Linked DNA regions of Homo sapiens. The protein of the gene in region 7 purifies or fractionates together with the protein of the main gene of each other region. This does not show direct contact. Each region holds a gene or a part of one and is shown on either strand. Other genes may lie near its edges.

Region 1 (4,603 bases), on a different chromosome or scaffold from region 7:
ACCATGAACTCTCCAGGTTGGTTTCATTTGCTGTCTGAACACAGACAGATTGTTATAGGCCAGCACAGCAGCATCTAATGCATTTAATCCTTCCCAGGGATAAGAAGCAGAATGAGATGCTTTTCCATAGTATTTCACAGTCACACTAGGAAATAAAAAATCATTTGAAATTACTTTTGTTATTATTGCTAAAGTAAGAAAATCCAGGTAGTCAGAATTACCCAACTACTATTCAAAATTAATTCACATTGCTGGACTTTTGATTTGCAAATTATTTGTAGTAATAACACTGCAATTTATTTATGTTAGTTATAGTTTATTATTAGGTAACATAGTGCTTGACACAAAGAAAGCATTCCCAAAAAAGAGAGAAAAAGAGAAAAGATTAAATGTATACACAATCTAATGCAAACATGCAATATGGTATCAGGTGCTGAAATTACAAAAAAAAAAAATGGATCCTGTATGTTTTTACACAGCATTGTGATGATTCTATTATCAAAAGTCTGTAAAAAATCAGAAATTCTGTCTTAAGAGGTGGAAGGTCAGGAAAGCCAGAAAGGAGTTACTATTTGAAGTGGGTTAAGACAACCTCTGAAAATCAGATTATATTCAATGTTATCACAAGATACCCTAGTATTAAAGCAGTTGTTCCTGACCAATATCCAATATTTTATTATGTTCCAAAATGCCTACATCACTAATATTTTACATTTTAATAAACTGTTAAGTTCTCACACCAGTCTAACTGCTCTAATACAATTAAAAAAAAAAAGATTAGAGAAAGGATTGCGTGTTGAATAGTTACTTATAAAGCTCTGTGATTGACGTGCTTTGATAACACTTTTTAAGCCTGATTAATAATACCCACATTTAGGTGATTAGAAAACCAATCTGGACTTATTTTAATGGGTTAGATTCAGGAGTCCTTAGAATGCTTATGATATTTCTTCTCAACTGATTCCAGACATTCTATTAGCAGGACAAAAATCAAGTAAAAACATCAAACACGTATTAGATTTCAGGATACTGTATTGTTATTTCCTTGATATATATCTTATCACCATGACCTTGAAATGAATTTTTTTTTTTTTGGTACTCATCTCCCTCTGTCACCCTGGCTGGAGTGCAGTGGCGTGATCACAGCTCACTGCAGTCACCACCTCCCAAGTTCAAGCAATCCTCCTCTGCCTCAGCTTCCCACAGATGAATAGCTGAGACCACAGGAGTGCTCCATGCCCAGTTAATTTTTTATTTTTTTTTGTAGAGACAGGTTCTCACCATGTTGCCCAGGCTGGTCATGAACTCCTGGGCTCAAGAGACTCTCCTGCCTTGACGTCCCTAAGTGCTGTGATTACAGGTGTGAGCCACCTGGCCTGGCAAAACCGGAATTTCATCACAACTGGTGATAAATATTATAAAAACGAGAAGGATTATATGGAATTATTTTCAAGACATACTATTTAATTTTAAAAAGCCAGAACAATATATTGAGTGGAATACTTGAGGAAAACCTTCTTTCACAATTTATACAGGATTCTATTTATGTCCCATAAGTACACCAAAAACACTCTGAAAAGGATACATACCTCTAGAAAAAGGACTGGATTTGGGAAAGGTGGTCAGCAGGATTGCTTTATCTTATTCATTAGAAATTTGTGGTTGGGCCTGGCGGCTCATGCCTGTAATTCCAGCCCTTTGGGAGGCCAAGGCGGGTGGATCACTTGAGGTCAGGAGTTCAAGACCAGCCTGGCCAACATGGTGACCCTGTCTCTACTAAAAATACAAAAATTAGCTGGGTGTGGTGGTGCTTGCCTGTAATTCCAGGTCCATGGGAGGCTGAGGCAGGAGAATCCCTTGAACCCAGAGGCGGAAGCTGCAGTGAGCTGAGATTGCGCCACTGTACTCTAGCCTGGGTGACAAAACGAGACTCTCTCGGAAAAAAAAAAAAAAGAATTTTTAAGAAAAGTGGATTAGTAATTTAAAAAAAAATGAATTCTTGATCTTGTTCTCTTTTTTTTTTTCTTTTTTTTTGAGATGGAGTTTCACTTGTCTGGTGGCCAGGCTGGAGTGCAATGGCACGATCTTGGCTCACTGCAACCTCCGCCTCCCAGGTTCATGCAATTCTCCTGGCTCAGCCTCCCAAGTAGCTGGGATTACAGGTGCCCACCATGCCTGGCTAATTTTTGTATTTTTAGTAGAGATGGGGTTTTGCCAAGTTGGCCAGGCTGGTCTCGAACTCCTAACCTCAGGTGATCCACCTGCCTTGGCCTCCCAAAGTGCTGGGATTACAGGTGTGAGCCACTGCACCTGACCTCTCTTTTCTATCTTAAAAGATGACCAATGAAGGCCAGGTGTGATGGCTCATGCCTGTAACCCCAGCACTTTGGGAGGCCGAGGTGGGTGAATCACTTGAGGTTAGGAGTTCAAGACCAGCCTGACCAATACGGTGAAACCCTGTCTCTACTAAAAATATGAAAATTAGCTGGGCGTGGTGGCGCACGCCTGTAATCCCAGCTACTCAGGAGGCTGAGGAAGGAGAATCACTTGAACCTGGGATGCGGAGGTTGCAGTGAGCCAAGATCGTGCCACTGCACTCCAGTCTGAGCAATTGAGTGAGACTCAGCCTCAAAAAAAAAAAAAAAAAAAAAAAAAAGAGATGATCAGTGAGAAAGCTAAGAAGGCAGATACTAGGAGAAGGTCTGGGGTCAAGTGCGCTGACTTCAGAACCAAGACCACGAAGCCTAACCTTAAGTCCCAGAAGGGTAATGAGCTGCAGAGCCTGCCTGCATATGCAGGCCCCTTCTAGTCAAAGGCAAGGGCAGAGATTTCTAATCCCCAGTGTTTTCTAGAGATGGACTAGTTTACCACCACCCTTGAAACCAAAGTTCAAAGATTCCTCCTACTGCCACAGTACCAATTTCCAGTGATAAGAAGGAAGATACCCTAATAGTTAAAATGATCACCCTTTGAAAACAGGGCCTGGTAAGGTGCTAAGAGGTGGGATACCCGGGTACAATCTAGAAGCACTGCTGTGATGGTTCTGCTATCATTCCCTCAGTACCGAGCTACTTCTGAGGAAAACACATGGTTTTGCTGAAGCAGCTGAGCACTGGCTCCTTGTGCCTGGACCATTAACTACTATAGTTACTACTATGGTTGAAATTTCTGGTATAAAAAATCCAAACCACTTCAATGATGTGTGCTCCTAGGTACTAAAAAGTGAGTTCTTCAACATAAAGAAAGACAAATAAAAGGTTTCAGCACCAGACAAATCGGAAAAGCACAGAATGAGAAGTTCCACAAAAACCATAGCTACTCATGTTCCATATTCTCTCTCAGGACATAATTTATCCTCTTTGCAAAGAACTCAAATTAAAGTAAATAAAATGGATAAGTGTGGTTTCTTCCCATAGCTAATAGAACGATCTCTCGCAAATCTATTCAGTTGCAAAGACAATTTCATATGAAAGGACAGATGTTTTCCAGACACCAGATTATTGACAGTTCAAAAGAGAACTTAATTGTCAACATGTTTGTTATTCCTATGGTTTCTAAGTGCTACTATTTTAATACTCCAATTATGAACACCATAATGAATCTCAATTAGAAGAGGCTTGCCAAATGTCACTCCATAGATCAAGACATCTTGTTATTGTCTTTCAATTTACTTCTTAAATATACAAATGTGGAGTTTTCGTCTCTGGTTTAGACATAAAAGTATTCTATAGCCTGTGTTCCCCTAAGAAGTTTATCTTCAACTTGATTACTCACTCATGTTCAGCCATATCTGGTAGATAAGCAGCATTCTCTTGTGATGGGTGGGCCATAAAAACAACATCAAGATTTGTAAAAGCCCCTGCTTCAATTAAATCAATTTTGCCACCACCATCTTCTTCTGCAGGGGTTCCCAGGACAACTACCTAGAAGGAAATACTCATGTCAGGGAAAAACAACAAAATCCTCATAGGAATATATCAAACAGGTTCACCTGCATATGTATTCACAATCTACATTAAAGTCCTTAACCTATTAAGACAGGTTTTGTTCTATGACGCTTACGCAATGGGCATCAACAAATGGTGCTAAATTAATCACAAAATGTACATTGTTATACCAACTTGGTGCAAAGTATGTACTAAAGACACTATAAAAAGCTTTTCCCAATTTTACAAGTCAACTAATGGCAAAGATAAAAAAAAATACTACAAGTTTAGTCCCTCAAAATTTGTTAGGATTTGTTTCAAAAAGGTTCCTCTCGACTAAGCCTTTCAGTGTATGTATGTATATAATTATTCTTAAGTACTTTACGAGTCAGAAACTTTCTGTTAACTTACTACTTATCCTCACAACAACCCTGTGAGGTAGGTGGGTGATCTCTATCATCATTTTACAGGGGGTGTTTTTGAGGAATTGAGTGAAGTGTCTTGCCCCAGGTCACAGAGCAAGTCTTCAGGCAGAATTAGGATTAGATGTCCTGATCTTCTGGCCTAAACTCTGATTCCTTACTGGGCTACCTATTTTAAAAGTCTGAACTCATTAATCCTTTATGAAGAACATTAAACAAGTCTTAATGCCACAGTTAGAAACAGCCAACTATTAC
Region 2 (4,335 bases), on a different chromosome or scaffold from region 7:
TTAATCCCCAAGAAATTAATAGCTGTCGCATAAAAATATTCCTAGTTCTTGATTGAATTTAGTCCTCATGCAAGATATTATTTTATATTGAGGTTGCTAAATATTTATTAGTTGTGAAAATTAACACACCTGAGACTTTCATAATCTGTTAATTAAACTGAGTAAGTTTTGAATAGTTCAAATAAGTGAAATTTTCAATTTTTTTATTAGATTATTATTGAAGTGACAGAAATGTTGCATAATGCCAGTTTACTCATCGATGATATTGAAGACAACTCAAAACTCCGACGTGGCTTTCCAGTGGCCCACAGCATCTATGGAATCCCATCTGTCATCAATTCTGCCAATTACGTGTATTTCCTTGGCTTGGAGAAAGTCTTAACCCTTGATCACCCAGATGCAGTGAAGCTTTTTACCCGCCAGCTTTTGGAACTCCATCAGGGACAAGGCCTAGATATTTACTGGAGGGATAATTACACTTGTCCCACTGAAGAAGAATATAAAGCTATGGTGCTGCAGAAAACAGGTGGACTGTTTGGATTAGCAGTAGGTCTCATGCAGTTGTTCTCTGATTACAAAGAAGATTTAAAACCGCTACTTAATACACTTGGGCTCTTTTTCCAAATTAGGGATGATTATGCTAATCTACACTCCAAAGAATATAGTGAAAACAAAAGTTTTTGTGAAGATCTGACAGAGGGAAAGTTCTCATTTCCTACTATTCATGCTATTTGGTCAAGGCCTGAAAGCACCCAGGTGCAGAATATCTTGCGCCAGAGAACAGAAAACATAGATATAAAAAAATACTGTGTACATTATCTTGAGGATGTAGGTTCTTTTGAATACACTCGTAATACCCTTAAAGAGCTTGAAGCTAAAGCCTATAAACAGATTGATGCACGTGGTGGGAACCCTGAGCTAGTAGCCTTAGTAAAACACTTAAGTAAGATGTTCAAAGAAGAAAATGAATAATGTTAAGCCATTCTTGATTGGACCTCATAGCTTATTTTAGTTAATCTTTTTTTTGTCTTTTAGCCTTACCACCTTTTAAAAAATTTGTTATTCTCCAGAAACAGTAAATAGGTGAGTAGGGGTGGTGCAAGTGAATTCGTTTTCATTTAGAAGCCCCTCTGTACAGATAATCAAAATTCAAAGTTGAAAGAATCAAAAGCAGCCACAGTTATGTAGGTCTGATTTGAATGTCATAATTGCAGTGACAGGACATTGCCACCAACTCTATCCTACTACCATCAATGTTGTGTTTATTCCGTCAATAAAAAAGACTTGCTTCCAGGAATTTTTATCCATACACTTTCTAACTGTACTATCTGGGCAGTTCCAAGCCAGTTTCTATTAGCTAGCTGGACCAAAGACCACAAATCTCTTTTTTTCCTAAACGCTGCTGTAAGGAATATCTCACTTTTCCCCCCGGAAACACCCTCACTGAAGTCTTCTATGAAAAGGCTGATAATGGGCTGGGCGCGGTGGCTCACGCCTGTAATCCCAGCACTTTGGGAGGCCGAGGCGGGCAGATCACGAGGTCAGGAGATCGAGACCATCCTGACACGGTGAAACCCTGTCTCTACTAAAAATACAAAAAATTAGCTGGGCGTGGTGGTGGGCGCCTGTAGTCCCAGCTACTCGGGAGGCTGAGGCAGGAGAATGGTGTGAACCCAGGAGGCGGAGCTTGCAGTGAGCCGAGATAGTGCCTCTGCACTCCAGCCTGGGTGACAGAGCGAGACTCCGTCTCAAAAAAAAGGGCTGATAATGATAAACAGTGAGCACTCCGGTCCTTTTTCTTAGGTTTTCCTTTTTTCCTTCCTCTCCACCCCACAAGTTTTGCTTTTTAACCAAGGTGTCTCTGCTTGATGAAATTCACATGCTAGTCTAAATCTTTTTTTCTCCCTTGTAACATTTATGTGCCCCAAACTGGTTAGTATATGGGTACAGCATTCCCTTTCCAATTGGGAAGCGGAAAAAGAGAGTATGGGATATTTTAGAAGGGAGCCTTTGAACCTTATTATATTTCCCCATCATTGATAGTGACAATCTTAAAAGGGTTGTTTTCTTACCTTAAGTACAAAAGCATGGAAAAATGCGCTTTTCCTTCCCGCCCACATCACCACCCCGACTTGAAGACAGTAGGTGCTTGAATGGAAAGTGAGTAGGCATCTTTAATCGCCCTGATTAAAGGAAAGTGTTAGCCTGAGAGGGCCTGACTGAAAAGTAACCAAAGGCTTAATATCAAACACTAATTAGCTTTTTAGTGCCTTAACCCTGACCTGGTTACCAGTTTTCTGTAGTTTCTACACCCAAGCCACTGAAGTCATCTGTGGCCCAAGAGGTAGGACAAAAAAAAAAAAAAAAAAAGCTGATTTCAATATTTGATTTGTTGACATCCCAAAATGAAAGTTTTATGTTTCCCTTAGAAACATGTTTTGCTTGGTTCTATAGTATGTTACTTAGGATCTATTTACCATATATTTGTATGAGAAATCCTCACCCAAGCATTCAACCTAAATCTTTGAAAAGTTGGGTGCTGTCTTTAGTAACTTTTAAAATAGTTTAAATCTCCCATTTTAATAGTGATAAGGAAACCTGTTAAAATCATGGCTATTGATGTTATAGTATGGAAAGTTGAACTTTATGAACCCATACTTTTAAAAAGCATTTTTAAAAATCTAACACTGACTATAGAAACAAATTAAAATGTCTACCTTTAAGTATAAAAATTGCTTAAGTAGATTTGTTCCTTGCCTATCAAATTAATTTTGGCCTGGTGTTCTTCATTATTCATTTGTTAATTTTATCTTGCCTTTGTCAATAACAGAAATGTTTGTCATTGAATTGGGAATTTTTTTTTTTTTTTTTGAGACGGAGTTTCACTCTTGTTGCCCAGGCTGGAGTGCAATGGCGTGATCTCAGCTCACTGCAACCTCCACCTCCCGGGTTCAAGCGATTCTCCTGCCTCAGCCTCCTAAGTAGCTGGGATTACAGATGCCTGCCATGTTGCCTGGCTAATTTTTTTTTTTTTTTTTTTTTTAAGTAGAGATGGGGTTTCACCATGTTGGCCAGGCTGGTGTTGAACTTCTGACCTCAGGTGATCCAGCTGCCTCGGCCTCCCAAAGTACTGGGATTACAGGCATGAGCCACCGCACCCAGCCAAATTGGGGACTTTTAACAGTCATTTTACCTGTAGAATAATCAAAACTCTTCACTTGATCTGTAGTCATAGCTATTAACACAGAAAAATGAATGCCAGTTATGTTGCCATAAACCACCTTCTGAACTTGGCAAGATCTTAAAACCATCAACTGTTCTCTGTTCACTCTGTGAACTTCTTTCTACTTTACTTCCTTCTCTACCTCACCTGTACTCTATAGTCACTCACTTCAATGACACTTAAAGAGCATTCACTCTCAGATCACTTTTCTCCTTTCCTTGCCCATTCTTATCTTGCCAACTCCCAGTCCTGGATAAATCCAAACATCCACGTTCTTTGTGCATCCGTGTTGCTCAGTGCTGCTGGGGAACATTTTCACAACTGCTGTTGGAACCATTGTGAGTTTACACATTCCAGCCTCTGCAACGCCTTTATTTTCCATCTAATCTTTCCTAGCAGAGATTTCTATTTGTTTTGTTTTGGTTTGAGACAGAGTCTCGCTCTGTCTGGCAGGCTGGGGTGCAGTGGCACGATCTCAGCTCACTGCAACCTCCGCCTCCTGGGCTCAGGCAATTCTCCTGCGTCAGCCTCCCGAGTAGCTCAGATTACAGGCATGTGCCACCACGCTCAGCTAATTTTTGTATTTTTAGTAGAGACGGGGTTTCACCATGTTGGCCAGGCTAGTCTCAAACTCCTGACCTCAGGTAATCCTCCCGCCTCTGCCTCCCAAAATGCTGGGATTACAGGCGTGAGCCACCACGCCCGGTGTCAGAGATGTCTTATTAAAGATCCCCTTCTTCTCTTCTTCCTCTCTTCTCCCACTAAATAGAAACTCTCCTAACTTTCCTTCCCTCTACTTTAGGTCTGTCTTTACATAGTCTGCTATTTTCAAGAAGAGTTTGACCTGCCCTAGGTTCTCATGTGCTTGAATTTCCCCCTGTCTATTGAGGGCCTTGTCCCATTCCATCTTCCCTTCTAGATATCTCTCATCTAGATAATCTCAAGATCTATCCATTGATTCTTTTTTAATCAGTGTACTGAGAGGAAGAAAGAGGGCAAGGAAATACATACTTATGAAGTATCTTACCGGGTACTAGATACTTTACATGTTTTCCTCAAGCATTTACTGAGGAATGCCAGGGCCTTGAATACAGATCAAAGTACCTGGCTCT
Region 3 (4,603 bases), on a different chromosome or scaffold from region 7:
GGATATCAGTGTTCTGATTCAATTTGGATAGACCGATGAGTAGACTACAAATTGGCCTAATGAAACAAGAATTCGGCTTTGTAGAATCAGGAACTGCTGGTGAAATAGTACTTATGATACTTTTGCTGTATACAGTCACCTCTCCGTATCTGTGGGTTCCGCATACGTGGATTCAATCAACCATAGGTCAGAAATATTTGGGAAAAAAATAGAAGGTTGCATCTGTATTAAACATGTACAGACTTTCATTCTCTAAACAATACAGTATAACAACTGTTTATGTAGCATTACATTGTTACAGGTATTCAAGTCCTCCAGAAGTTATTTAAAGTACAGGGGAAGATGTATATAGGTTATATACAAATGCAGTGCCATTTGCATAAGGGACTTGAGTATCTGCAGATTTTTGTATACTCAGTTAGTCCTGGAACCAATTTCCCATGCATACTAAGGGATGACTGTATTTAAATGAAAAATCAGCTCAGCTCTAAGACAGAGAACTTAGGTAGATACTGTTTGAAAATTGCATTAATGTAAACATTGATACTTTTAAAGTGCTGTTTGGTCACTTTTTTAAACTTCTTTTGTCTGTATTGACTGCAGTCTTTTGCTTTCTGGTATTTGAGACTGTACACAAGTCTGCACTATAATTCAGATCCCATGTAGAGGTAGGATTGCCAGATGGTGGACTATGAACCCTGGTGAATCCTAACCATAAGGAAACATTCAGAGGATATCTCACAGAACAAGGTAGAGCAAAGACATTTTAAATAAAGTCCCAGGCTGGACGGGGTGGCTCCTGCCTTGTAATCCCAATGCTTTGAGAGGCCGAGGTGGAAGCGTTATTTGAGTCCACGAGTTTGAGACCAGTCTGGGCTACATAGTGAGACCCTGTCCTACAAAAAATAAGAGAAAGTCCATTTTGGTACGAGGAGGCTACTGTCACTTTATTAGTATAATTGTTTAATCTGTACTACTTTAAAACCAAGTTTATATTTTCACTTCTTTTTCAGGTAGGTGTAAAAGTTGGTGTCCGAACCAGGGGCTGTAATGGCCTTTCTTATACTCTAGAATATACAAAGACAAAAGGAGATTCTGATGAAGAAGTTATTCAAGATGGTGAGTTTTTAACAAACATTTTTTGGGCACATTGTTTTGCCTAAAATTATTAGCCTTGCACAGCACAAAGTAAAAAATAAGGATAGTAGCAGGAATTATGTAAATAATGCTCACTGTGTGTGTAGGTGTTGTTTGATGGAATTTCATGTATTAACTGATTTATACACAATGCTGAATGTGGGTGGTACCATATTATCCCTGTTTTTCTGATGAAGAAACTGAGGCACAGAGGGGTTAAATAGTTTAAGGTCATAATAAGTGGCCTAGTAAAATTCTTTCCAGAGACTGCTCTTAGTAACTAATTGATAAATTATTATATAAGCTTGTTTTAACTATGAAAGATCATCGTTGTGTCCAAAAAGTGAACCAGCCTTAAACCTCACAGTGAACCAACAGTTTTTGTGTAAGCAGTAGTTTTATATCTGTGTCAAATAAGTACGAGTTGAGCATTCCAATCCAAAAATCTGAAATCTGAAATGCTCCCAAATTCAAAACTTTAAAAGTGGGTGCTGACATGACACTCAGAGGAAATGCTCATTGGAGCTTTTTGGATTTGGGATGCTCAAGCAGTAAGTATAATGCAGATACAGTCATACATCACTTAACATTGGAGATACATTCTGAGAAATGTGACGTTAGACAAATATCCTGGGGTGTACTTAGACAAACCTAGACGGTCTGAGAAATGTGACATTGGACAAATATCCTGGGGTGTACTTACACAAACCTAGATGGTAGAGCCTACCATATGCCTCAGCTAGATAATATAACCTGTTGCTCCTAGGCTACAAACCTGTACTGCACGTGACTGTGCTGAATACTGTGCACAGTTCTGACACAATGGTAAGTATTTGTGTAAACGTACCTAAACAAAGAAAAAGTATAGTGAAATTTCTTTTATTATTATTATTATTATTATACTTTAAGTTTTAGGGTACATGTGCACAATGTGCAGCTTAGTTACATATGTATACATGTGCCATGCTGGTGTGCTGCACCCATTAACTCATCATTTAGCATTAGGTATATCTCCTAATGCTATCCCTCCCCCCTCCCCCCGCCCCACAACAGTCCCCAGAGTGTGATGTTCCCTTCCTGTGTCCATGTGTTCTCATTGTTCAATTCCCATCTATGAGTGAGAACATGTGGTGTTTGGTTTTTTGTCCTTGCGATAGTTTACTGAGAATGATGATTTCCAATTTCATCCATGTCCCTACAAAGGACATGAACTCATCATTTTTTATGGCTGCATAGTATTCCATGGTGTATATGTGCCACATTTTCTTAATCCAGTCTATCACTGTTGGACATTTGGGTTGGTTCCAAGTCTTTGCTATTGTGAATAGTGCCACAGTAAACATACGTGTGCATGTGTCTTTATAGCAGCATGATTTGTAGTCCTTTGGGTATATACCCAGTAATGGGATGGCTGGGTCAAATGGTATTTCTAGTTCTAGATCCCTGAGGAATCGCCACACTGACTTCCACAATGGTTGAACTAGTTTACAGTCCCACCACCAGTGTAAAAGTGTTCCTATTTCTCCACATCCTCTCCAGCACCTGTTGTTTCCTGACTTTTTAATGATTGCCATTCTAACTGGTGTGAGATGGTATCTCATTGTGGTTTTGATTTGCATTTCTCTGATGGCCAGTGATGACGAGCATTTTTTCATGTGTCTTTTGGCTGCATAAATGTCTTCTTTTGAGAAGTGTCTGTTCATGTCCTTTGCCCACTTTTTGATGGGGTTGTTTGTTTTTTTCTTGTAAATTTGTTTGAGTTCATTGTAGATTCTGGATATTAGCCCTTTGTCAGATGAGTAGGTTGTGAAAATTTTCTCCCATTTTGTAGGTTGCCTGTTCACTCTGATGGTAGTTTCTTTTGCTGTGCAGAAGCTCTTTAGTTTAATTAGATCCCATTTGTCAATTTTGGCTTCTGTTGCCATTGCTTTTGGTGTTTTAGACATGAAGTCCTTTCCCATGCCTATGTCCTGAATGGTAATGCCTAGGTTTTCTTCTAGGGTTTTTATGGTTTTAGGTCTAACGTTTAAGTCTTTAATCCATCTTGAATTAATTTTGGTATAAGGTGTAAGGAAGGGATCCACTTTCAGCTTTCTGCATATGGCTAGCCAGTTTTCCCAGCACCATTTATTAAATAGAGAATCCTTTCCCCATTGCTTGTTTTTGTCAGGTTTGTCAAAGATCAGATAGTTGTAGATATGCGGCGTTATTTCTGAGGGCTCTGTTCTGTTCCATTGATCTATATCTCTGTTTTGGTACCAGTACCATGCTGTTTTGGTTACTGTAGCCTTGTAGTATAGTTTGAAGTCAAGTAGCGTGATGCCTCCAGCTTTGTTCTTTTGGCTTAGGATTGACTTGGCGATGCGGGTTTTTTTTTTGGTTCCATATGAACTTTAAAGTAGTTTTTTCCAATTCTGTGAAGAAAGTCATTGGTAGCTTGATGGGGATGGCATTGAATCTATAAATTACCTTGGGCAGTATGGCCATTTTCACGATATTGATTCTTCCTACCCATGAGCATGGAATGTTCTTCCATTTGTTTGTATCCTTTTTTATTTCATTGAGCAGTGGTTTGTAGTTCTCCTTGAAGAGGTCCTTCACGTCCTTTTTAAGTTGGATTCCTAAGTATTTTATTCTCTTTGAAGCAATTGTGAATGGGAGTTCACTCATGATTTGACTCTCTGTTTGTCTGTTATTGGTGTATAAGAATGCTTGTGATTTTTGTGCATTGATTTTGTATCCTGAGACTTTGCTGAAGTTGCTTATCAGCTTAAGAAAATTTTGTAAAAGATCAAATGTGGTCGGGTGTGTTAACACAAGCCTGTTGTCCCAGCTACTCAGGAGACTGAGGCAGGAGGATTCCTTGAGTGTAGGAGTTCAAGAATGTAGTGCACTGGCCAGGCGTGGTGGCTCACCTGTGTAATCCCAGCACTTTGGGAGGCCGAGGTGGGTGGATCATGAGGTCAGGAGTTCACGACCAGCCTGGCCAACATGGTGAAACCCCATCTCTACTAAAAATACAAAAAATTAACTGGGTGTGGTGGCACACGCCTGTAGTCCCAGCTACTGGGAGGCTGAGGCAGGAGAATCGCTTGAACCCCAGGAGGCGGAGGTTGCAGTGAGCCGAGACCATGCCATTGCACTCCAACCTGGGTGAAAAAGTGAGACTCTGTCTCAAAAAAGAAAAAAAGACATCATAGTGCACTGTGTTCTTACCTGTGAATAGCCACTGCCCTTAAGCCTGGGCAACATAGCGAGACCTCCATCTCTTAAAAAAAAGAAAAAAAAAGGAAGAAGAAGAAGAAAATAAAACATGGTACACCTGTTTGTGGCAGTTACCATGCATGGAACTTGCAGGACTGGAAGTTGTCCGCGTGAGTCAGTGAGTGAGTAGGGAGTGATAAGTGAATGTGAAAGCCTAGGACGTTCCTCCGTAGTACTATAGACCTTATAAACCTTGTACACT
Region 4 (4,603 bases), on a different chromosome or scaffold from region 7:
TCGATCATAATCTCTTTTGCGAGAACGATCATCTTTTTTCCTCTCATCACGGCTTCTAAAGAAATATGTGATCACTTTAATACAAATAATTTTTAAGTGACACAGGAAAAAGCTAATTAAATGCAAAAGTTACATTTAATTCTTGTAACTTAACTTTCTATCCTACCATCAGACAACTGAAAAAACTGAGCTTAATATTCAGTACTTTAAATCCCTTTTAAATGAAAAACAATCTTTTTAAAGCCTTAACCCTTAGTCTTATTACACATTGGCAACTATACAATTAGGCATCTGTAGATAAAGGCATCTGTATATAAGACTTAGAGTACATATAGAACATACTATCCCGTACATATAATCTCACTTACAGACATGTATCACATGCATTGTATTCTAAGTGCTTTTGAAGCCTGAATGAGAAAAACAATTTAATCACACTAAATGGAAACAGCAGGCAAAAAAAAAACACCCACACATTAAGATTCTACTGGAATCTGAAGTTAGGAATAAAAAGATAAGCAGCTAATATATGTCAAGCACTGTTCTAAACTCACTCCCAAGATCTACAAATCTGACCTAGATTTTCATGGTAGAAACGGACCTAGTTATATTTTCCTAGACCAATAAAAGAGTAGATATTACTTGCCTCTGCGTAAAAGATAACCCAAGTCTAAACATTTGTATAAAAGATAACTTACATCGAAACACTGAGTATGGTTCAATGAACTGCTCACCTATTTTCCCTGTATCGGGAGCTTGACTGGGGAGGACTGTGATTTAGCCTTCTAGAAAACTTCTTCTCTCGCTCTTCCTCCTTAGTGATCTGATTAAAAAAAAAAAAAAAAGTGTACAAGTTTAGTAATTATTCCACTGTTAAATAGCCTTAGATAGGGCTGGGCACAGTGGTTCATGCCTGTAATGCCAGCACTTTGGGAGGCTGAGGCGGGTGGTTCACGAAGTCGGAAGTTCGACACCAGCCTGGCCAACATGGTGAAACCCTGTCTCTACTAAAAATACAAAGATTAGCTGGGCACAGTGGCAGGGGCCTGTAATCCCAGCTACTCTGGAGGCTGAGGAAAGAGAATCGCTTGAACCTGGCAGGCAGAGGTTGCAGTGAGCTGAGATCGCGCCAGTGCACACTCCAGCCTGGGCGACAGAGTGAGGCTCTGCCTCAAAACAAACAAACAAACAAAAAAAAGCCTTAGACACATTACTGCTTTAATGACTTTATTAACATTAACATTTAATTAACATTAAATAAAATTTAATTAACATTAAAATTAGTTTATATAACGTAGAAGCAAAATTGTCATCTTCTAAAATTATCCAAACAAAGTAAATTTCTCTACTAAGTATAATCATTTAACTATAATGAAATGATTACATTGGTGAGAAAACATTTTAAGCAAGTATGCTCATTTAACATAATTAATGGAAATCCAATTTTATTCCTCTTTCAAAAGTCTAACATATATTCATGTTTTGGTTTCGTGGACTTGGTGTGGTACCAAACACATCAAGGAATATAGGAGAATACATTAGAACTCACCAAGTCATAAATACATACACACACACAAACATATACATGTTTATATATATAAATATATATTTACATATTATATATATTTATGTATCATATTGTAATTTATTATATATTTTATATTATATATAATTATATGATATATATTATAATTATATGATATATATTTATAATAAATATTTTATATAAATATATTATATATTATATAAATATAAATATATTTATAATATTTTATATGCTATATAAAATATATCTTATATATTACATATTTTATATAATATATAAGATATATCTTATATATTACATATTTTATATAATATATAAGATATATCTTATATATTACATATTTTATATAATATATAAGATATATCTTATATATTACATATTTTATATAATATATAAGATATATCTTATATATTACATATTTTATATAATATATAAGATATATCTTATATATTACATATTTTATATAATATATAAGATATATCTTATATATTATATATTTTATGTATTATATATTTATATAAATTTTTATATAAATATATAAAATATATAAAAATATATAAATATATATAAATATGTATATGTTTATGTGTGTATGTATTTATGACTTGGTGAGTTCTAATGTATTTATATATTTATATATAAATATATAAAAATATAAATAAATATATATAAATATAAAATATATATTATATATAAATAAAATATATAAATATATAATATATATTATATATAAATATATATAATATATATTATATACTATATATAAATAAAATATAAATATATATTATATATTATATATAAATATATATAATATGTATAAATATACAAATATATATAATATGTATAAATATACTTATTTATATATATTACTATATATATTTATATAATATATTTATATATTACTATATATATTTATATAATATATTTATATATTACTATATATATTTATATAGTATATTTATATATTATATATTACTATATATATTTATATAGTCTATTTATATATTTATATATTATATATTACTATATATAATAATATATAATATTTTATATATATATATTACTATATATAATAATATATAATATTTTATATATATATATCTGGGAAAACAATATATAAGGTGAAATAGTTCTCCAGTTTCTCACAGCAGCATGACAGCTATATATTTCTGTTTCCTACAAGGTGCCTCCATTCACATTATATAGCTACTAGAAAGCAACCTTGGAAAATATTCTCAGTGCTACTTTCTCCAGACTATATTGTTGAGAATAATGGTCCTCAACAACAGGAACGACAGGAATCACTGTTTTTCTAGGTAATTAGAAAAAGGGACTTAGAGGTTGAACAAATTCAGGAAATATCGTGCAAGTGGCTTCTATAAATAAGATAGGGCTCAAGATTTTGTGTTACTGAGAACCATAAGATATTCTCATGCAGGTAGTCTACGCACAGGGTACACATGTCCCAGTTTATGCCAGCTGTTCCAGCATCCTTTTGATAAGGGCTTCTGACTGTCAGAATGTACCACTTTATGCTGGGCACAGTGGCTCACACCTATAATCCCAGCACTTTTAAAGGCAGAGGTGGGTGGATCACTTGAGGTCAGCAGTTTAAGACCAGCCTGGCCAACACGCTGAAATATCATCTCTACTAAAAATACAAAAATTAGCTGGGCATGGTGGCACGCGCCTGTAATCCCAAAAGGGGATTACAGGAGGGATACTTGGGAGGCTGAGAGAGGAGAATTGCTTGAACCCAGGAGGCAGAGGTTGCAGTGAGCCACTATGGGGCCACGACACTCCAGCCTGGGCAATAGACTAAGACTCCGTCTCAAAAAACAAACAAAAAAAAGTGTGCCACTTTAGATGAGAAATCAAATGGAAATCCTATTAACAGACCAAACTAGGAGAAATAATCTTTAAAGCATTCTTTCAACAGTTTGCCTTTTTAAATTCAAGTACTTTCGTACTCTTTCCACCTATTCCAGCTCTCCTCCCAGACCAGACAAAAAACCGGGTACTAATACGACCCTTCTGATGCACTCTTTCCCTTCTATTTCCTCAATGCACTTTTGCGAGTTATCTAACAGATCACCATATTCCACAGTACATGCCCATCTGCAAACTTTTAGTATAGCCACAGCATTTTAAACGTAGATTGCCATCTGGCATTTCAACAATTCTGAAAGATCAGGGATAAGTATCTCCCACAATTGGTTGAAAAAACAGGAAGTATTATTACATCAATAGATAATAAGACTAAGGCTTTGCTACTAACTCGATTTAGGGGAAGACTACTCAAGCCAAGGGACTGTGATTTACTCAAGATTTTCTGAGAATTAAAGCATACATATAATATATATATTATATATATTTTATACATTTTTTATATACTATATATTTATATTTTTATATATTTATATGATATATATAAATATATATTTATATATATCATATAAATATATATTTATATTTTAAAAATAAATAATATATATTATTCATATTTATATATATTATATATATATATTTTTTTTTTGAGACGGAGTTTAGCTCTTGTCACACAGGCTGGAGTGCAATGGCATGGTCTCAGCTCACTACAACCTCTGCCTCCCAGGTTCAAGCGATTCTCCTGTCTCAGCTTCTCGAGTAACTGGGATTACAGGCACCTGCCACCATGCCTGGCTAATTTTTGTTTTTAGTAGCGACAGGGTTTCACCATATTGGCCAAGCTGGTCTTGAACTCCTGACCTAAGGTGATCCACCCGCCTCAGCCTCCCAAAGTGCTGGAATTACAGGCGAGAGCCACAGTGCCCAGCCAAAGTATAATTTTTCACAGCAAAAATCTGAAACCAAACCAAAGTTCCACCAGTAGGCAAAACTTGAATAAACCATTGCATATCTCTATGTTGCATAAGCAATTGCCAACACAATATACACCGTCCCTTTCTTCCTAACAGAACCCTTATACTGTTAGGTATGAAATAGGTTCAGTTATAAATTACATTTCTGGTCTTCCCAGGCAGATAAAACTGATTGGGATGTTACATGTGGGTATGT
Region 5 (4,603 bases), on a different chromosome or scaffold from region 7:
CAGAAAAAGCTAGCAGGACAGAGCCCTCTTGGGGTTAGAACAAATCTCAAAAGCTGACTATTCTCTCTAAATTCTGGTTTCTGGTCCAAGACGAAAACAGCCTGGAAGTGCCACCCGTCTGTCCTCATAGCACGAAAAATGCTGAACAATCTGAAAATCCATAATTATTCTTAGATCCATCAGAGAATTCAGGTCACAGGGCAAACTGCTGCCTCCAAAACTGGAGAGAAAGGTGGATACTGACAATTACAGCTTTCCAGGAACATAAGCCCAGGAACAAGCCACTGGAGCCAACAATGGGGGAGACAAAAATAAGCACACTAGAGGAAATTTTAACCTCTAATACCTACGGCTACAACAAACAATAATCATAGCCGAACTCCTACTCAGATAAACATAAAATCTCACTCTAAAGGCCTATTTAATTCTTTTTATCCAATATTATCTTAAATTTGTAAAATTTTTTGAGACACTGTCTCGCTCTGTTGCTCAGGCTGGAGTGCAGTGGCATGCTGACGGCTCGAGCAGCCTTGACCTCCTGGGCTCAAGCGATCCTCCCACCTCATCCTCCCTGGTAGCTGGGACTACAGGTGTGTGCCACCATGCCCAGCTAATGTTGATATTTTTTGTAGAGATGGGGTTTTGCCATGTTGGTTAGGCTGGTCTCAAACTCCTAGGCTCAAGCAACCCCAGACGTTGGCCTCCAAAAGTGCTGGGATGACAGGAGTAAGCCACTGTGCCTGGCCTATCCAATATATCATATCATATATAGCCCTCAACCAAAAAAATGACAAGGCATGCTAACAGGCAAAATACAAAAGTTTGAAGAAACAAAACAAACATCAGAACTGGATTCAGATATGGCAGAGATTTTAGAGTTAGCAGACCAGAAATTAAAATAACAATGATTAAGCCAGGTGCGATGGTATGTGACTGTAGTTCCAGCTATACTCAGGAGGCTGAGGGAGGAGGATCACTGGAGTGCAGGAGTTTGGGGCTACAGTGCACTATTATCATACCTGTGAAAAGCCACTGCACTCTAGCCTGGGCAACAAAGCAACGCCTCATTTCTTGTTTTTTACTGTTTGTTTGGGGTTTTTTGGGGTTTTCTTTTTTGAGTCTCGCTCTGTTACCCAGGCTGGAGTGCAGTGGCATGCAATCACAACTCACTGCAACCTCCACCTCCCAGATTCAAGCAATTCTTCTGCCTTGGCCTCTGGAGTAGCTGGGATTATGGGTGTGTGCCACCATGCCCAGCTAATTTTTGTTTTTTTAGTAGAGATGGGGTTTCGCCATGTTGGCCAGGCTGGTGTCGAACTCCTAGCCTCAAGTGATCTGCCCACCTAGTCCTCCCAAAGTGTGAGATTACAGGTGTGAGCCTCCGCACCCAGTCACAAGACCTCATTTCTAAACTAATTAATTAAATAGCTGATTAACAGGATCAGAGCTGGGAAAAGTGGACACCATGCAAGAAAAGATGGGTAAATTAAACACAGATAAAAATTCTAAAAAAAAAAAAAAAAAAAAAGGAAAAAAAAGAAATACTAGAAATCAAAAAACACCATAAGAGAAATGAAGAACGCCTTTAACAGTTATCAGTAAACTGGATGCAGCCAAGGACAGAATCAGTGAGTTTGAAGATAGGTCAACAGAAACTTCCCAAGCTGGGGCAATAAAAGAGGAAAAAGAAAGAAAAAGTAGAACAGAATATTCAAGTATTACAGGAAAATTGGAGAAGGTATAACATCCACATAATGGGAATACCAGAAGGAAGAAAAAGAGAAAAATAAATATTTGAAGTAATAATGGCTGAGAATTTTCCAAAACTGACAGATACCAAGCCCCAAATCTGGGAAGCATATTCAAACTGCAGAAAATCAAAAGTGAAGAGAAAATCTTGAAAGAAGCCAGATGAAAAAAAAGCACCTTAACTATATAGGGGAACAATAAGAATTAATTTGGATTTCTCTTCAGAGAGCATAAGAGCAAGCAGAGAGAGACATAAATACCTAAAGTGTTCTGGTGGCTCGTGTCTGTAATCCTCAGCAGAGGCTGAGGTGGGAGGACTACTTGAGGTCAGGAGTATGAGATCAGCTTGGGCAACACAGCACGACTGAGACCCCTATCTCTAAAAAAATTGTTTTAAAAATAGCCACATGCCTATAGTCCTAGCTACTTGGGAGGCTGAGATGGTCGGATTGCTTCAGTCCAGGAGTTTGGTGTTACAGTGAGCTATGATTGTGCCACTGCACTCCAGCCTGGGAGACACAGCCAGACCCTGACTTTGGGGGGGAAAAAAAAAGGCACAGATAGATTAAAAGTAAAGGAATGGCAAAAGATACAATGTGTAAACACTAAACAAAAGAAAGCTGGAGTAGCTATACTAATTTCAGACAAAGTCGAATTTGGCAAGGAACATTACCAGGGATTAAGTGGGCATAAGATAATGAAAAAGGTGTCAATTCTCCAAGAAGGCATAACAATATTTAATACATATGCATCTAACAACAGAGTATCAAAACACAATGTGGCAAACACGGATAGAAATGCAAGGAGAAATAGATAAATCCACTCACTATTATAGAGATTTCAATACCCATCAGTAATTAACACATCCAGCTGGCAGAAAGTTAGTAATTATGCATATACTTAAACTGAAAGGTACCATCAGTCAACTGGATCAAACAGAATATCTCATCCAACGACAGCAGAATACACATTCTTCTCAAGCTTACACGAAACGTTCACCAAGGTAGACCACATTCTGAGCCATAAAAGACACCTTAACAAATTTAAAAGACTAGAACTAATATAAAGTATGCTCTTGGGTCATAGTGGTATTAAACCACAAATCAATAAAACAATGATAACTGGAAAATCCCAATATATTTGGAGAGTGAACAACACACATCTAAATAACACATGGGTCAAAGAAGTCCCAGGAGAAATTTAAAAATATTCTGAACTAAATGAAAATGCACATACAACGTATCAACATTTGTGGGATGCAACAAAAACAATGCTTAGAGGAAAAGGTATAGCAGTAAGTGCATATGCAGAAAAGGAGAAAGACTTCAAATCGTAATCTAAGTTTCTACCTTAGGAAACTAGTAAAAGAAGAGCAAATTAAATCCAAAGTAAGCAAAGAAATAACAAAAATTAGCTCAGAAAGTAGTAAAATTGAAAACCAAAAATCAATAGAGAAAATCAACAAAACCAAAAGCTGTTTTTTTGAAAAGGTCAACAAAATTGATTACTAATATGAGAAATTAAAGAGTGGCTATCACTACCGATCTCATGGACGTTAAAACAATAATAAAGAAATATTATGAATAAGTCTAGGCTCACAAGTTTGGATAACTTAGATGAATTCCTTGAAAGACACCATCTATCAAAATTTACCCAAGGAGAATTAGATAACTTGAATAAGTCTGTATCTATTAAAGAAATGTAATCAATAATGAACAACCTACCAAAACAGAAAGTGCCAAGCCCAGATGCTTTCAATGGTTAATTCCACCAAGCATTTAAAGAAGAAATAACACAGCAGCAGTGATCAAGACAATGTGGTATTGACATAAGGACAGACATACAGATCAGTGGAACAGACTTGAACGTCCGGAAATAAATCCAAAAGTGTCTATGGTCAATTGATTTTTGACAAGGGTGGCAAGGCCTTGCAATGAAGAAAGAAAAGTCTTTCTAATAAATGGTGCTAGGACAAATGTATAGCTGCATGTTAAAAAAAATGGAGTTGGATACCTACCTTATACCCTATACTAAAATTAACTCAAAGTGGATCAACCACCTAAATATGAGCTAAAACTATAAACCCTTTAGAAAAAAACCTAGGAGCAAATCTTAATGACCTCAAATTTTGCAATGGATTCTTAGATATGGCACCAAAAGCATGAGTAATGAAAAAAATTTAGATAAATTGGACTTCATCAAAATTAACCTCTCTGTGGCTGGACGCGGTGGCTCATGCCTGTAATCCCAGCACTTTGGGAGGCCGAGGTGGCCGGATCACCTGAAGCTGGGCGTTCGAGACCAGCCTGACCAACATGGAGAAACCCGGTCTCTACCAAAAATACAAAATTAGCCAGGCGTGGTGGCGCATGCCTGTAGTCCCAGCTACTCGGGAGGCTGAGGCAGGAGAATCACCTGAACCCGGAAGGTGGAGACTGCAGTGAGCCGAGATCACGCCATTGCACTCCAGCCTGGGCAACAAGAGCAAAACTCTGTCTCAAAAAAAAAAAAAAAAATTAACCTCTCTGTTTCAAACAATAACATCAGGAAAGTAAAAAGACAATCTACACAATGGGAGAAAGTATTTGAAATCATATATCTGATAAGGGACTTGTATCTAAAATATGTAAGGATTTTTGTAAAAAAAAAAAAAAAAATTTACAAGTGGGCAAAATATCTAACCAAACATTTCTCCAAAGAATAACATACAAATGGCTAATATGCACAAGAAAAGATGCCTGACATCACTAGTCATCAGGAAAATGGAATCAAAACCACAGTGAGATGCTGTGAGTCACACATCAAGTGTTGACAAGAATGTGGAAAAATCAGAACCCTCATATACTGCTTATGG
Region 6 (4,603 bases), on a different chromosome or scaffold from region 7:
AGCTTGAAGAATTCTCTTCAATATTTCTTTTAAAACAGGTAGGATACTAACCAGATTCTCTCAACTCTTTTTTTCTTTTGTCTAAAAACATCTTTATCTTACCATTTTTTTTAAAAAAAGAGATGGGGCCCTGCTGTGTTTCCCTGGCTGGAGTGCAGTGGCTATTCACAGCTTCAAAATTCTGGCCTCAAACAATCCTCCCACCCCAGCCTCCTGAGTAGCTGGGACTAGAGGGGCACACTGCTGAGCCCAGCTTGCCTTCATTTTTGAAGGATATTTTTCTGGGTAGAAAGCTCAAGGTTGACAGTTATTCCCATCTATCATTTGAATGCAATTCTATTCTGTTTTTTTTTTTTTTTTTTTGAGACAGAGTAAGACTGTCACCCAGCCTGGAGTGCAGTGGCACAATTTCATCTCAGTGCAACCTCCACCTTCCAGGTTCAAGTGATTCTCCTGCCTCAGCCTCCTTAGTAGCTAGGATCACAGGCACCCACCACCGCCCTTGGCTAAATTTTGTGTTTTTAGTAGAGATGGGGTTTCACCATGTTGGGGAATGGTACCAAACATGTAGGCTTTTATCGCTCACCTCCCTCCTACCATTCCCCCCAAGTCCCCAAAGTTCATTATATCATTCTTAGGCCTTTGCCTCCTCATAGTTTCTTAGCTCCCACTTATAAGTAAGACCATATGGTATTTGGTTTTCCATTCCTGAGTTACTTCACTTAGAATAATGGCCTCCAAGTTCATCCAAGTTGCTGCAAAAGCCTTTGTTTCGTTCCATTTTATGGCTGAGTAGTATTCCATGGTGTATGTATACCACATTTTCTTCATCCAGTTGTTGGTTGATGGGCATTTAGGTTGGCTCCATATTTTTGCAGTTGGTAGTGCTGCTATAAACATGTACGTGCAAGTATCTTTTTCATGTAATGACTTATTTTCCTTTGGGTAGGTATCCAGTGGTGGAATTGCTGGATCAAATGGTAGTTCTAATTTTAGTTCTTTTTTTTTTTTGGAGACAGAGTCTCGCTGTGTTGCCCAGGCTGGAGTGCAGTAGTGCGATCTCGGCTCACTGTAACTTCTGCCTCGCAGGTTCCAGTGATTCTCCTGCCTCAGCCTCCCGAGTAGCTGGGACTACAGGCGCACATCACTGCACCCAACTAATTTTTGTATTTTTGTTAGAGATGGGGTTTCACCATGTTGGTCAGGCTGGTTTCAAACTCCTGACCTTGGGATCTGCCTGCCTCGGCCTCCCAAAGTGCTGGGATTACAGGCATGAGCCACCACCCCCAGTCCTTTTTAGTTCTTTAAGGAATCTCCATACTGTTTTCCTTAGTGGTTGTACTAGTTTACATTCCCACCAGCAGTGTAAAAGAGTTCCCTTTTCACCATATTCACGCCAACATCTATTTTTCTTTTTTTATTTTTTAATTATGGCCATTCTTGCAGGAGTAAGGTGGTACCTTATTGTGGTTTTAATTTGCCTATGTATGATAATCAGTGATGAGCATTTTTTCTTATGTGTATTGGCCGCTTGTATATCTTCTTTTTTTTTTTAATTATACTTTAAGTTCTAGGGTACATGTGCACAACGTGCAGGTTTGTTACATACGTATACGTGTGCCATGTTAGTATGCTACACCCATTAACTTGTCATTTACATTAGGTATATCTCCTAATGCTATCCCTTCCCCCTCCCGCTGCCCCACAGCAGGCCCCGGTATGTGATGTTCCCCTTCCTGTGTCCAAGTGTTCTCACTGTTCAGTTCGCACCTATGAGTGAGAACATGCGGTGTTTGGTATTTTGTCCTTGTGATAGTTTACTGAGAATGATGGTCTCCACCTCCATCCATGTCCCTATAAAGGACACGAACTCATCATTTTTTATGGCTGCATAGTATTCCATGGTGTATATGTACCACATTTTCTTAATCCAGTCTATCATTGATGGACATTTGGGTTGGTTCCAAGTCTGCTGGGCGAAGGATATGAACAGACACTTCTCAAAAGAAGACATTTATGCAGCCAACAGACACATGAAAAAGTGCTCATCATCACTGGCCATCAGCAAAATGCAAATCAAAACCACAATGAGATACCGTCTCACACCAGTTAGAATGGTGATCATTAAAAAGTCAGAAAACAACAGATGCTGGAGAGGATGTGGAGAAATAGGAACACTTTTACACTGTTGGTGGGGCTGTAAACTAGTTCAACCATTGTGGAAGATAGTGTGGCGATTCCTCAAGGATCTAGAACTAGAAATACCATTTGACCCAGCCGTCCCATTACTGAGTATATACCCAAAGGATTATAAATCATGCTGCTATAAAGACACATGCACACGTATGTATAGCTTCCTTTGAGAATTGTCTCTTCATGTCCTTTGCCCACTTTGTGCTGGGATTATTTGTTTTTTTTTTCTTGCTGATTTGAGTTGTAGATTCTGGATATTAGTCCTTTGTTGGATGCATAGTTTGCAAATATTTTCTCCCACTCTGTGGGTTGTCTGTTTGCTCTGCTGATTATTTATTTTGCTATGCAGAAGCTTTTTAGTTTAATTAGGTCTCATTCATTTGTTTTTGTTTTTGTTGCATTTGCTTTTGGGTTCTTAGTCATGAATTCTTTACCTAAGCCAATGTCTTGAAGAGTTTTTTTGATGCTATCTTCTAGAATTTTTATGGTTTCTTAGATTTAAGTCTTTGATCCATCTTGAGTTGATTTTTGTATAAGGTGAGAAAGGAGGATTCCTGGCATCCATGAGGAATAGCATTTATTCCTGGATCTAAGTTTTGACTAATTAATGCTTTTAACATTTTAATTAATGTGTTTAACCTCAAATGGATTTATTGAAACCTTAAAATATATGCAAAAATTATATATGCTAAGATTTTTTTCCCCTATTTTTATGTTACGTCCTCTAGATTTGAATTTACGTTAAGTGAATTCCAAAGTTAGGAATTGAAATCAAATTCCTTTTTTTAGGCTTATGTTTTTATTTCCACAGGTCCTGCTCAATCTGGAATTTTGTCAGATCGTGAAGTGGTAAACCTCTTTCTTCATTTTACTGTCAACCCTAAACCCCGAGTTGAATACATTGACCGACCAAGATGCTGTCTCAGGGGAAAGGAATGCTGCATCAATAGATTCCAGCAAGTAGAAAGCCGCTGGGGTTACAGTGGGACGAGTGATCGAATCAGGTATCTGTTATATTGGGGATGCGGGGGTAGAGTGGGGGTAGCAGTTACCATTTGGCCTTTTTTATATATTATGGGAGATAATTAACCAACATTTCATTTTATACTTCATTTAATACACTTTTAAGTTAAGTTAATATAGGAGTCAAGAAGTCACTGAGGCATCCTGCCCTCCTCACTGATTTATGAGTGAGGGTGACTTCTTAAGAAAAAAATAGAGTAAGAAAGGATTGGGTTGGACCTTCTGTTACGTGATTTTTTTGTTTTTCCCCAAGATGGAGTCGCTCTGTCACTCAGGCTGGAGTGCAGTGGTGGGATCTCTCACACTGCAACCTCCGCCTTCTGGGTTCAAGCGATCCTCCCACCTCAGCCTCCTGAGTAACCTGTAAGGCATGCATCACCACGCCCAGCTAATCTTTTTGGATTTTTAGTAGAGACGGGGTTTCACCATGTTGTCCAGGCTGGTCTCGAACTACTGACCTCAAGTGATCCACCTGCTTCAGCCTTCCAAAGTGCTGGGGTTACAGGGGTGAGCCACCACGCCCAGCTGTTACATGATTTTTGTTTGGATCACCACTGCCAGTGGGCTGAGTTCTAGACCTTAATTGATCAAACGTTATTTTTACAGGCTTAGGGCTACAATTAATAAATGTAACCTTACTATGTTTAGTGTGAGTTTTTTCTTTGCATAGATGTTGCAGGGAAAGTATCTCAGTATACATTTATAAAAGCCTTGAGAAAAAAATCAAGAATCTTGAAAAATGCATGCGTATAATCCTGTTGAAGAAATTGTCTTTGCTGTACTGTGTTTCTTTAGGTTGAATGTCAAAATAGAATCAGTGCCGGTTTTCACAAAACATGACTTTTGGATTTTCATTTATTTAATAGCACTTCAGTATAAAACTGGAAATTAACAAGTTTGTTAAAACAGAAAAATCTGGTTGGATGTGGGACTATTATAAATCTTAAGTTAACATGGAAATTAAAAATGTACTTGTAGACTATTTAATAATAATTCACAATAACTATATGCAAAAATTATGGGATGAGGCCAAAGCTGCACACAAAGAAAAAGTAATAATTAACTACTTGTAGTAAATAGAGTAGAAATAAATGATTTAAGCATTCAGCCCAAGTAGCTAGAAAACAAATAGCAAAAGAACTATAAGAAAAGAGAAAGTAAATAGATAAATGTAGAAATTAATGAATTAGAAATAGTAGAATTCATAAATCCATAAGCTGGTTCCTTTAAAAGACCAATAAAATAAATAAACCTCTGGCAAAGGTAATAAACATTCACATTTAGAAGCAAAAATGGGAATATAATTATATGCTGACATTTTTATTTTAATTCTGGGTTTATTCTGTGCTAATAAATTGAACATGTTGATGGAATGGATCATTTTATA
Region 7 (3,515 bases):
TTCTAGTTAATTCTTGTCCAACCTTTTTTTTTTTTTTTTTGAGATGGAGTCTTGCTCTGCCGCCCAGGCTGGAGTGCGGTGTCGAGATCTCGGCTCACTGCAAGCTCCGCCTCTCAGGTTCACGTCATCTTCCTGCCTCAGCCTCCCAGGTAGCTGGGACTATAGGTGCCCGCCACCACACCTGGCTAATTTTTTGTATTTTTAGTAGAGACAAGGTTTCACCGTGTTAGCCAGGATGGTCTCCATCTCCTGACTTTGTGATCCACCCACCTTGGCCTCCCAAAGTGCTGGGATTACAGGCGTGAGCCACCACGCCTGGCCTTTTTTTTTTTTGAAGCGGAATCTCGCTCTGTCACCCAGGCTGAAGTGCAATGGCACGATCTCGGCTCACTGCAACCTCCGTCTCCTGGGTTCAAGCAATTCTTCTGCCACAGCCTCCAAAGTAGCTGGGATTACAGGCATGTGCCACCACACCCAGCTAATTTTTGTATTTTTAGTAGAGACGGGGTTTTACCATGTTGGCCAGGCTGGTCTCAAACTCCTGACCTCAGGTGATCCACCCGCCTTGGCCTCCCAAAGTGCTGGGATTACAGGCATGAGCCACTGTGCCTGGCCCCTTGTCCAACCTTTGAAGACAGTAGGATTTTCTTTCTGTAGGAATCAGAATTTTCCAAGGTGCCATGTGGGGCAGTTATGTAAATGAAGCACCCCCAGATCCCTACAGCCTCCTTGGATTTTGATCCAACACAGAAAAATTATCATTTATTTATTTATTTATTATTTAGAGACAGGGTCTTGCTCTGTCACCCAGGCTGGAGTGCAGGGGCACAGTCATAGCTCATTGCAGCCCCCAACTCCTGAGCTCAAGTGATCCTCTTGCCTCAGCAAGTAGCCAGGACTATAGGCATGTTCCAACACCATGCCCAGCTAGTTTTTTGTTTTTTTTTTTTTTAGTTTTGTAGAGGCGAGGTCTCACTATGTTGCCCAGACTGGTCTCTTACTCCTGGGCTCAAGCCATCCTCCTGCCTCAGAAAGTCATCTTTGCCTCAAATGTACGATTAATTTGGGGGTAGGCTTTGCCACCACTATCTCACTGGGTCCTCCCCAGACCACTGTGGGATAGGGCTGTCTCTTTCCCCATCTTTGAAATGAGGAAACAGGTCTGAAAATCGAGGCAACTCCCATCTTCTCCCACCACCCCTGAAGCCCTAGCACAAGGCTGGGCATCCAGCCAGCCCTCGGGAAGTTTGTTTGGACTGGGATGACTGAACTAGGTCTTTTTTCTGAGTCCTAAACCCCCAGGGACATCCCGTTCATTCGGTCTGCAAATATACTTTTTGTATACCTACTATGTGCCAGGTGCTGTTTTAGGCCTTAGGGATAAAGCCGTGAATAAAACAAAGATCCTTGTCCTTGTGGACCTTACATCCCAGCAGCGGAGAAGACAGATGAGTAAAGTATATGGTATGTTAGGTAAAAGTGTTAAGAAAAATAAAGCAGGATGTTGGGCATGGTGGCTCACGCCTGTAATCCCAGCATTTTGGGAGGCTGAGGTGGGTGGATCACCTGAGGTCAGAAGTTCGAGACCAGCCTGGCCAACATGGTGAAACCCCATCTCTACTAAAAATACAAAAATTAGCTGGGCGTGGTGGCAGGCGCCTGTAATCCCAGCTACTCGGGAGGCTGAGGCAGGAGAATTGCTTGAACTCAGGAGGTGGAGGTTGCAGTGAGCCAAGATCATGCCACTGCACTCCAGCCTGGCGACAGAGCAAGACTCAGTCTCAAATACAAAAAAAAAAAAAAGAGAAAGCAGGAAGAGGGAACAGGAAGTACTGGGAAATGTAATTTTTTGATGAGGGAGAGTTTCTCCAAGGAGGCAACATCTGTAAAGACCTGCAGGAGTTGAGGGCAGGCGCCATTCATCTTCCAGCCTTTGGTCAGGCCTGCCCACTTCTCTCCAAGGACCTTCTCCTGCCCTCATGTGGGTCCTCTGGTCCAGAATAGACTTGTGAAGTCATTGACAACAATCCTCAAACACTGCACTCCCCCAAGACTGCATAATAAACTCATTCATACTAAGGTATTAGCAGTTCTTCATGGAGAACTCTTGGGTGGGGAGCCAAGCTCTGAAAAGCCCCGTGAGGGAATGCCTTATCTCAGGAAGGAGCCCTGGGATGGGAACCACCCCTCCTCCCTGCCTCTCTCCCCCACAGAGATTGAGTCTCACATTATAAAGCAAGAAGATATACTTAATGGCAAAGAGAATGAGATTAAAGAGTTGCAGCAAGTTATCAGCCAGCAGAAACAGATCTTCAGGTGAGGGGTCTGGGCCCGGCTGGGGGTTGTTGATGACACTGGGGAGCCAGACCTCTGGCCCCTACCTACCCTTGGCTGTCCACAGCCCACCACCAGCCGGCTCCGTTGCAGGAATCACATGTCTGACTTCCGGATCCAGAAGCAGCAGGAGAGCTACATGGCCCAGGTGCTGGACCAGAAGCATAAGAAAGCCTCAGGGACACGTCAGGCCCGCAGCCACCAGCATCCCAGGGAAAAATAAAATGGCCGCCGCTTTCCTGTTCTCTGGCTGTAATCCCCAGCCTCTGCCTTCTCTGCTCTGGGAGTCCCCAGCCTCTAGCCCCTGCTACTTCCCTCCCTCTTGGATAGTGGTAGGGGTCCACAAGGTGGGGGCTTGTAGCCTAGGGGAGGAGCTGGGTCTTTGTTGTCTGGTAGGCACCACCGCTTCCTTTGGGTATTTAATCCCTTCCTATATAAACAGCCCTGGTTACCCAGTAATATTCCACCCCACTCCCAGTGTCCTGGTAAATTTAACTTCCCAACTTGACTACAGGGCCGGAAGCCCTGACCAGAAACTTCAAAGACAGTGGGTTCCAGAACCACAAGGAATTTGGGAAGTCAGTTTCCATCACATGACAATAATGTTATACCTGCAAATTGCATTTGCACCTGCTGACACCTCCCCCAAACGGGAGCTTCACAATGGGAGGAAGAGAAAAGACAATGCTGTGTGTGGTTTTAAGGTGGAGAAACAATCTGGGAAGGGACCTCAATTTGCACAAGTTGCACAGGCAGGGCTGGATGGGATGGAGCAGCAACATTTTTTCAGAAGCCATCACCGAGTGCCCCCTAGGTGATCATGGGGACACACCCAGGCAGAGGACCCACTTCAGGGGTCAGATTAGCCCAGTGTAGCCTGTCCTGGGTCGGTTTGAGGCCAAGTGCACAGGAGGGGGCAGTGCTCTTGCTCCAGGGCCAGCTGGGGCCTGAGTCATAGCAGGACCTTGAAGCCAGAAGTTTAAGGGCAAGTGGTGCCCACAGTTGTAAGACAATGACAGGTGGTGGTTGCCTCCCCACCAGCGCCTGTCCCCAGGGCAGGTCCTAAGGCTGTGGGGGCTGAAGTTAGGGCCTTGTGAATACCTGGGGGAGCACAGGGCTGTTCTGGCCGCAGGGGCCTTTGGAGCTGGGACCACAAGCTACTTCGAAGCTTCCTGTAGGAC

The links.
Region 1: the proteins of SPATA24 (region 7) and PM20D2 purify together in Homo sapiens (affinity purification with mass spectrometry; one large-scale study listed by BioGRID and IntAct). This does not show direct contact.
Region 2: the proteins of SPATA24 (region 7) and GGPS1 purify together in Homo sapiens (affinity purification with mass spectrometry; 2 studies listed by BioGRID and IntAct, with this or other methods). This does not show direct contact.
Region 3: the proteins of SPATA24 (region 7) and ISCA1 purify together in Homo sapiens (affinity purification with mass spectrometry; one large-scale study listed by BioGRID and IntAct). This does not show direct contact.
Region 4: the proteins of SPATA24 (region 7) and RBM26 purify together in Homo sapiens (affinity purification with mass spectrometry; one large-scale study listed by BioGRID and IntAct). This does not show direct contact.
Region 5: the proteins of SPATA24 (region 7) and DCAF17 purify together in Homo sapiens (affinity purification with mass spectrometry; 2 studies listed by BioGRID and IntAct, with this or other methods). This does not show direct contact.
Region 6: the proteins of SPATA24 (region 7) and BTBD1 purify together in Homo sapiens (affinity purification with mass spectrometry; 2 studies listed by BioGRID and IntAct, with this or other methods). This does not show direct contact.

Annotation. Positions count from the first base shown.
Region 1 is NC_000006.12:89,148,585-89,153,187, reverse strand, and holds part of PM20D2 (xaa-Arg dipeptidase), read right to left. Parts: exon of another isoform or gene 3,924-4,603; coding exon 3,775-3,923; intron 1,403-3,774; exon of another isoform or gene 1,282-1,402; intron 146-1,281; coding exon 3-145; exon of another isoform or gene 1-2. UniProt on the Homo sapiens protein: Catalyzes the peptide bond hydrolysis in dipeptides having basic amino acids lysine, ornithine or arginine at C-terminus. Postulated to function in a metabolite repair mechanism by eliminating alternate dipeptide by-products formed during carnosine synthesis.
Region 2 is NC_000001.11:235,341,801-235,346,135, forward strand, and holds the end of GGPS1 (geranylgeranyl pyrophosphate synthase), read left to right. Parts: intron 1-210; coding exon 211-972; 3' UTR 973-2,732; downstream 2,733-4,335. UniProt on the Homo sapiens protein: Catalyzes the trans-addition of the three molecules of IPP onto DMAPP to form geranylgeranyl pyrophosphate, an important precursor of carotenoids and geranylated proteins.
Region 3 is NC_000009.12:86,268,523-86,273,125, reverse strand, and holds part of ISCA1 (iron-sulfur cluster assembly 1 homolog, mitochondrial precursor), read left to right. Parts: intron 1-1,013; coding exon 1,014-1,119; intron 1,120-4,603. UniProt on the Homo sapiens protein: Involved in the maturation of mitochondrial 4Fe-4S proteins functioning late in the iron-sulfur cluster assembly pathway. Probably involved in the binding of an intermediate of Fe/S cluster assembly.
Region 4 is NC_000013.11:79,371,108-79,375,710, forward strand, and holds part of RBM26 (RNA-binding protein 26), read right to left. Parts: intron 824-4,603; coding exon 735-823; intron 56-734; coding exon 1-55. UniProt on the Homo sapiens protein: May be involved in the turnover of nuclear polyadenylated (pA+) RNA.
Region 5 is NC_000002.12:171,436,437-171,441,039, reverse strand, and holds part of DCAF17 (DDB1- and CUL4-associated factor 17), read right to left. Parts: intron 1-4,603. UniProt on the Homo sapiens protein: May function as a substrate receptor for CUL4-DDB1 E3 ubiquitin-protein ligase complex.
Region 6 is NC_000015.10:83,028,730-83,033,332, reverse strand, and holds part of BTBD1 (BTB/POZ domain-containing protein 1), read left to right. Parts: intron 1-3,004; coding exon 3,005-3,197; intron 3,198-4,603.
Region 7 is NC_000005.10:139,395,842-139,399,356, reverse strand, and holds the end of SPATA24 (spermatogenesis-associated protein 24), read left to right. Parts: intron 1-1,930; coding exon of another isoform or gene 1,931-2,004; exon of another isoform or gene 2,005-2,079; intron 2,080-2,213; coding exon 2,214-2,316; intron 2,317-2,401; coding exon of another isoform or gene 2,402-2,427; coding exon 2,428-2,557; downstream 2,558-3,515. UniProt on the Homo sapiens protein: Binds DNA with high affinity but does not bind to TATA boxes. Synergises with GMNN and TBP in activation of TATA box-containing promoters and with GMNN and TBPL1 in activation of the NF1 TATA-less promoter.